Homo sapiens: one gene and its partner. The gene in region 2 interacts genetically with the main gene of each other region. Each region holds a gene or a part of one and is shown on either strand. Other genes may lie near its edges.

Region 1 (3,693 bases), on a different chromosome or scaffold from region 2:
CGTCTGCACACACATACTTTGTAATCCCAGCCCAGAGCCCCCTTGGACCTGTCTCAGGAAGCAGAGGGGCTGGAACTACTGTTTCCTTTCTACGGGTGAGGAAACTGAGGGTGAGAAAGGGCCAGTGGCATCTTCGTGGTCACAGTGTGTTAGAAGAGAAACTCCTCCATGAGCCTCTTTGCTGGGCTCTTTGATACAGTGGATGAGGTCTGGGGGCTAGGCTGACAGTCACAAATATTGCTACCTACCCCAGTGGAAGGAGACATTTTATTTTATTATTATTGTTATTATTGCGACGGAGTCTTGCTCTGTTGCCCAGGCTGGAGTGCAGTGGCGCGGGAGAAGACATTTTAGTGCAAAGTGCTGGGGGTGTGAAGTAGGCACGGACTGCAGAGCTCAGACAGGCTCCCTGGAGGAGGGAGCTCTGGGGCTGAGCCCTGAAGATTGCAGGGCTTACACAGGCAGAGGGCGGGCCAGGGAAGGCACCCCAGGTTGATGCAGCAGTCTGAGCAAAGGTGTCAGGCAGGGGACTGGCATAGTATGAGAAACTGGCCCAGGTGGAAGCCGATGGTGAGGGAAGCGGGAAGGCAGACCCTGCCCATCTGGGGCTCTAGGACCCCACACACTTCCAGAGTCCACCTTGAGCACCGCTGCTCAGGGGACACTGTAGGGGATGGTTTCAAGTGGGCCTGGCATAAACTCTGCCAGGCAGCAGGGGGACTTCCACTGCCAATGTGAGGAACCAGGGTTTGACTCCAAGGGCGATGGGGCCTCAGCAGGGGGGCATGTGATCATGGAGAGCAGAAGGAGCTGGGGAGGAGACGGCCAGGGAGAACCAACACTTCCAGGCCGCACACCTGGCTCTATAGTCAGGCCTGGGCTTAATACCTGGCTCTGTTGACTGTGCGACTTGGGGTGAGTGACTCAACCCTTCTAAGTCTTGCTTACCCTGAAGGGGAGGACAGGTATCTCCTGCAAGCTGGCTGAGGAGGGGCTGGAATGAAACCCTGAACTTGGAAATGTCTGGTGCGCCCCTGCCCCATCCCCTGGATGAAAGAGCTTCCGTTCCTCCCAGAATACAGGGCCCTTTCTATCCCCAGAGGCCAGGCCATCAATCCTGCTGTTTAGGCAGGGACACTGAGGCCCAAGGAGGATGAGCCTGAAACCTGCCTCCATCCACATGACTCAGTCACCACTAAGTACAGGAACCATCCCTTGCCCCTGCCTCCTGTGGACTGTAAGCTGTGAGGGTGGGGGTGGCGGGGACCCCTTGCCCCTGCCTCCTGTGGACTGTAAGCTGTGGGGGTGGGGGTGGCGGGGACCCCTTACCCCTGCCTCCTGTGGACTGTAAGCTGTGGGGGTGGGGGTGGCGGGGACCCCTTGCCCCTGCCTCCTGTGGACTGTAAGCTGTGAGGGTGGGGGTGGCGGGGACCCCTTGCCCCTGCCTCCTGTGGACTGTAAGCTGTGAGGGTGGGGGTGGTGAGGACCCCTTGCCCCTGCCTCCTGTGGACTGTAAGCTGTGGGGGTGGGGGTGGCGGGGAGGGAAGGAGGATTGTGAGCTCTTCTAACCCTCTTACCCCCATTTCACAGAAGCGGAAACTGAGGCTCAACTGGTTGAACAATTTGCCTGAAGTCACATAGCTAGTTAGGGGTGACAGAGCTTGAATTAGGGTCCCACTAGGGCTGGCTGGGCCCCCAACCTTTAGGTCCTTCTGAATAGGGGCCCTGCTAGCATTCCACATCCCCATGCCTCCCCCTTCCTCCCCAAACTCCCTGCCACCACAGGGGGGCGCGGAGGCTGCTGCGCTGTTAGTCACCCTTCCAGCTGTCAGTTTGCAAACACTCCCTTCCTGGCCTACAGCTACTGCCACCGCCGCCTCCCCACTGCCTTGATTATAATAATAAAAATAATAACAGGCCCTGTTTTCTGAGCACTTATTCTGTGCCAGGCCCTGTCCTTGGCACGTTATGGCTCATCACATCCTCTAACAACTCTGAGACAGAGAAGCTATTATTATCCCCATTTTGCAGATGAGAACCCCAAGTGAGGCCCACAGGGGCAAGGCGGGGGTCCCTAGGGCCACACCTTGAGTGAGCATTCTGTCCCCCTCAGGTGTCAAACTCCTGAGCTGCTGAGCCAGCCCTCCCCATAGCCCCGTGCCTCCCTGCCGGACAGGCCCCAGGAGTTGCCATGGGGACCACACTAGCCTAGGGGCAAGGGAGAGGAGGGAGGAGGGAGGAGGCAGAAGCAGCTATGAGGGGCACAGGGGCGGTGCTCAGGGAAGGGTAAGCCTAGGAGCGGTCGGGGTGGGCTGCCTCAAGGAGCTGGGCTCTGAAGGCCTCAGAGGGTCTGGAAACAGGGAAGAGGGCTAAACTCATCACCTTTACTCTGCTGGCTGTGACTCTAGAACCCAGCTTCCCCATCTGTGCAATGGACTGGTGATACTCCTTGGCTCTGGGGGCTGCTGTGAGGACTGGAGTTGAGCTCTCAGCACCAGAACAGTGCCTGCCTTGCCACAGACATCTTGCAAGTGGGAGCTGCTAACTCTCTTGGACGGCTCCTCCCTGGTGGGGTCATGAGACCCCTGAATGAATGAATAAATGAACAAACAAAAGGGGGAATCCAGCCTGGCTACATCACACTGAGGTCCCATAACCAATGGGACTATAGTTAACCCCAAAGGGACTATAGTTAACCCCAAAGCGATAGCAGCTGTCACCCCACCCCCACAGAGCTAGGGGACAAGGGGCTTGGGATGTGGCAGGACCAGTGCTTCACGCTGACTTCCTGCCCCAAACCCGGCTCCCAGTAGCCCTTGTGCTGGGGTCCCGGGAACAGGCTGGCATTGTGCCCAAGCACTGACGTCAGTGGCCGCAGACAAGATGGCTCAGTGGCTTCCCAGCTAGTGCCTAGGCCGGGGTCCCCTCCTTAAAACATCTCCAGAAGGTGAGACCCTCCCACTGCAGGTCAGAGGCTGACAGCCAGAGTGGCTGGGAGGAGCTACTGCAAACTTAGGCCTCTACAACCCAGCGGGGGTCAGGCACAGAGAGGGGGTCCTTCCTGGGGTTATTTAAACTTAAGAGTCGGGCTACTCTATGGAACAGTGCAGGAACATCGTCCTGGGTGTCAGATGCTCTGAGTCCTGTACCCAGCTCTGCCATCAACTTGCTGTGTGACCTTGGGAAAGTCACTTGACCTTTCTGGGACTTGTTGGCTTCTGGTACCTTAGCCAGACCTGTTTCCCATCTGCTGTTGCCAGGACACCTGTGCCCTGTCTCCCTCCCCGCCTTGCCATTCCCTTCACACTCTCTCCTCCTCCTTTACCGAGGGACTTCCACTCAACCTTGGGGGTGCAGCTGAGCAACTGCTTCTGGAGTACCCATGCCTTAAAAAAACACAGCAGGACAGTCCCTGCAGTGCTGTCTGTAGTAGCAGGAGATGATGGGGAGACAGCCTTTATGTCCATCAGTTGGGGGCTGGGTGGATAAATTACAAGATGTCCCTGAAAGGGGACAGCATAGCTCTAGCTGTGATGGGGCCAGGGGAGATCTCTAGATGCCGATACTGAACACTCCCCATGATAGAGTATGGAAAATGGCAAAACACCAGCTCAAGTCATTGAAGAAAAAGTTGCCAGGGGAGCAGAACAGACACAGCTTCCAAGTCCCATCCCACAGGCTAATTGGAAACAG
Region 2 (3,693 bases):
AATCGAATTTACTGATTTTGAATCCCATTGTTCTCCACCTACTTCAGTCATACTGGCCTACTCACAGTTATCTCCCAAACTCATCAAGCTCATGATACCTTTGCTCACTCAGGTTCCCTCATCCAGAACGTGTTTCCTTTTCTCCATTCATGTTAATCCTCCCATTTTTAAAGGCATGGCTTGTTTTACTGCCTTTTTCTATTCTTCCCCGGATTACTCTATCTCATGATGGTTTCTCCTCTCTCTAACTCCCTTGGCTCATTCTAACATGCAAAAACTTGCTTTTTATTGTTGTTTACTTTAAAAAAAATATTTTGCATTGTGAAATATAATGTACACACAGAAGAATAAACAAAACAAAGTAAAAAGCTTAATTATTCCAAAGTGAAGATCTATGGCCCAGGTGCAGTGGCTCACGCTTGTAATCCCAGCACTTTGGGAGGCCAAGGCAGGTGGATCACTTGAGATCAGGAGTTCAAGACTAGCCTGGCTAACATGCTGAAAACCCTTCCCTACTAAGAATACAAAAATTAGCCAGGAGGGACAGAGCAAGACTCCGTATCAAAAATAAATAAATAAATAAAAAAGGCCGGGAGCAGTAGTTTACGCCTGTAATCCCAGCACTTTGGGAGGCCACACCTATAATCCCAGCACTTTGGGAGGCCAAGTTGGGTGGGTCGCCTGAGAGGTCAGGAGTTCAAGACCAGCCTGACCAATATGGTGAAACCCCATCTCTACTAAAAATACAAAAATTAGCCAGGCATGGTGGCGGGTGCCTGTAATCCCAGCTACTCAGGAGATTGAGACAGGAGAATTGCTTGAACTCGGGAGGCGCAGGTTGCAGTGAGCCAAGATGGTGCCACTATACTCCAACCTGGGTGACAGAGCAAGACTCTGTCTTAAAAACAAAAACAAAAACAAAAACAAAACTATGAAACTTCCTCTAGGTCCAGAAACAGAAAATTGTTACTATCTAGAAATCCTCTCCATTTTCCTTCCTAATTACTAACACCCTTTTCCTTCCCCTATCCCTTACAAAAAGATAATCACTATTCTAAAAACTATAGTAATTCCTGGCTTGATTTTGTTTATAATTGTACCACCTAAATATGCAACCTCAAATACAATAGTTTTTTGAGTTTCATATAAATGGAATCATACAGTATGTATATTTTTGTGTTTGGCTTTTTTTATTGAACATAATGTGAGAAATATACATGTTGTATAACAATGTTCATTTTCATTCTGTATAGAAAACATATTTATACTCATTTAAACAAATGGATGACTCTTTTTTTTTTTTGATGATTCATTTTTATCCATTCTGCTGTTGATGGACCTTCGGGTTACTTAACTTTTAAAAAGTATGTATCTTTTTGTCTCTCCAGCTAGAATGCAAGTTTCTTGAAGGCAGGGACCATATACTATACTATTTTATATTTACCTTAGTATTAATATTTAGCATAATCCTAAGCACATAATGGGTGTCCTCAATCACATTAAATATTGATTAAATGAATCTATTGATAGTTTGAGAGATAAGAAAAAAATAAGTACAGTTGGGAATCAATTTAATATTTTTAGAGATAGTTATGTAACTGGCCTTTTGTAACTACTACTATTTAAATAAATCACAAAGTTTGACCTCTTCTATTCATTTACACCTAAGGATTTATTGTCTTTTATTCTTCCTGAGCCAAATGAAAGCTAAATATTTGTTAACTATCCTCAAAAATAAAATTAGAGCAATTCAAAAGGTGGTTAATTGTTATGTGCTATTATTTATTATTTTTTGAGGCCTTGCTCTGTTGTTCAGGCTGGAGTGCAGTGACACAATCCTGGTTCACTGAAGCCTCGACCTCCGAGGCTTAAGCCATCCTCTTGACTCAGCCTCCTGAGTAGCTAGGACTACAGGCATGTGCCACCATGTCCAGCTAATTTTTTTGTTTTAAATTTTTTGTAGAGATGGTGTCTCACCATGTTGCCCAGGCTGGTCTTGAACTCCTGGGCCCAAGCAATCCTCTTACCTTGGCCTCCCAAGTGTTAGGATTACAGGAATTAGCCATTGCATCCAGCCATCTGCTTATTTTGTACAGTATCTCACCAATATGTTAAGTACTCACCATGGCCATAGCTCTTAATGAGCTGCTTTATTTTTTATTCTATTTCCTAAAATTTATATTAACCATTATAAACACATGAAGACAAGCCCAAAAGCAAAAATTCCAGTGCATAAGGTCAGCAGGAAATTAATCATTCCTATTCAAAGCTAAAACAAACCAAATAGCTTTTAGTTCTATATCCTCTTTTTATACAGTCAGTGACTGTTTCCTAGGTAATGTGTAAACGTCTCAAAAGAGTATTTATATCACCTAATCTTCAGTCCTATTCTGACATTCTCTTGGAGAGCTGGTTTTGCCTTTTCGTTTATTTGCCTTTTATAAAACTGAAGGCTCATCAACTTCTCAGCAAACAGGAAAATATATTTCCGGGCAAGAATTTCTGATATACCTACATCTTGGCCAGGTACACATAAGCATGTCTCTAATATTAGTTTTAACAATACACAGACTATAACTGGTCTGTAAATTTTGTTCAAGTTGGTAATTTAACAAGAAAAAAAGTAAAAAGGAAAATAGTAAATAAATGAAAGGCAAAATCTAAACAACAATGGTATTTCCAAGTCGAAGAATTATGTAGAAAAGAAGAGCTGTTACTACTTGTATGCAGCCAATTCACTTCTAGCTAAGGATAATTATCAAAGCCAAATTTAGTACTTTTAAAATCTAAAATAACATTCTAATTTTGTATGTTTTCAAAACTGAGGCCAGTAATAAATATACCTCTTTCTTTTCTTGCAGGCGGTGGGCGAGGGGGGGCGGTTATTTAAGGCTTTCCTGGAAAGAAAGCAGATTGTTTAAAATGTTACCTTCGTAACTTCTTCATGAGGGAATAGTGTGATGAGAAAACACAGCAAAAAGTTACAAATGAAGGATGATGATGTATACTAGTAGAGAAGCCAGGGAAATTTCTGGTTATATCACAAGACTCAGGACCTTAAGACTAACTGTACTATAAAATAAATGTTCCATTAAATAAGGAGACATTTAGGGAAAAAAGAGAAAAGCTAAAATTATTTTTAAAAATTTTCAAAAATTAAAATAATCCTCAATTGTTTATGTATGTGTGTGTGTGTGTGTGTGTGTATATATATATATATATATATATATATATTTTTTTTTTTTTTTTTTTTTTTTTTTTTTGAGGCAGGGTCTCACTCTGTCATCCAGGCTGGAGTGCAGTGGTGCAATCTTGGCTCATTGCAACCTCCGCCTCCCAGGTTCAAGTGATTCTCCTGCCTCAGCCTCCCGAGTACCTGGGATTACAGGCACCCGCCGCCACACATGGCTAATTTTTTATTTTTAGTAGAGACGGGGTTTCACCATGTTGGCCAGGCTAGTCTTGAACTCCTGGCCTCAAGTGATTCACTCACCTCGGCTCCCCAAAGTGCTGGGATTACAGGCGTGAGCCACCGCGTAATCCAACTGTTGATATTTGCCTTATAAAGATGCACAGAGGAAAATAAAAAATTATTTCTGCTATAAGAAACCTACCAATTGTTTATTTCTGTAAGGCAACTAATCACACATGTTCCTTGTCTTTTCATGTAAAAGACTATTTCTCCTCAAAGCT

Evidence for each region. Genes that interact genetically often act in the same process or in processes that back each other up.
Region 1: changes in GOLPH3L (region 2) and CSK are lethal when combined (synthetic lethality), as found in Homo sapiens cells (one large-scale study listed by BioGRID).

The regions. Positions count from the first base shown.
Region 1 is NC_000015.10:74,791,938-74,795,630, reverse strand, and holds part of CSK (tyrosine-protein kinase CSK), read right to left. Parts: intron 2,586-3,693; exon of another isoform or gene 2,383-2,585; intron 1-2,382. UniProt on the Homo sapiens protein: Non-receptor tyrosine-protein kinase that plays an important role in the regulation of cell growth, differentiation, migration and immune response.
Region 2 is NC_000001.11:150,690,615-150,694,307, forward strand, and holds part of GOLPH3L (Golgi phosphoprotein 3-like), read right to left. Parts: intron 1-3,693. UniProt on the Homo sapiens protein: Phosphatidylinositol-4-phosphate-binding protein that may antagonize the action of GOLPH3 which is required for the process of vesicle budding at the Golgi and anterograde transport to the plasma membrane.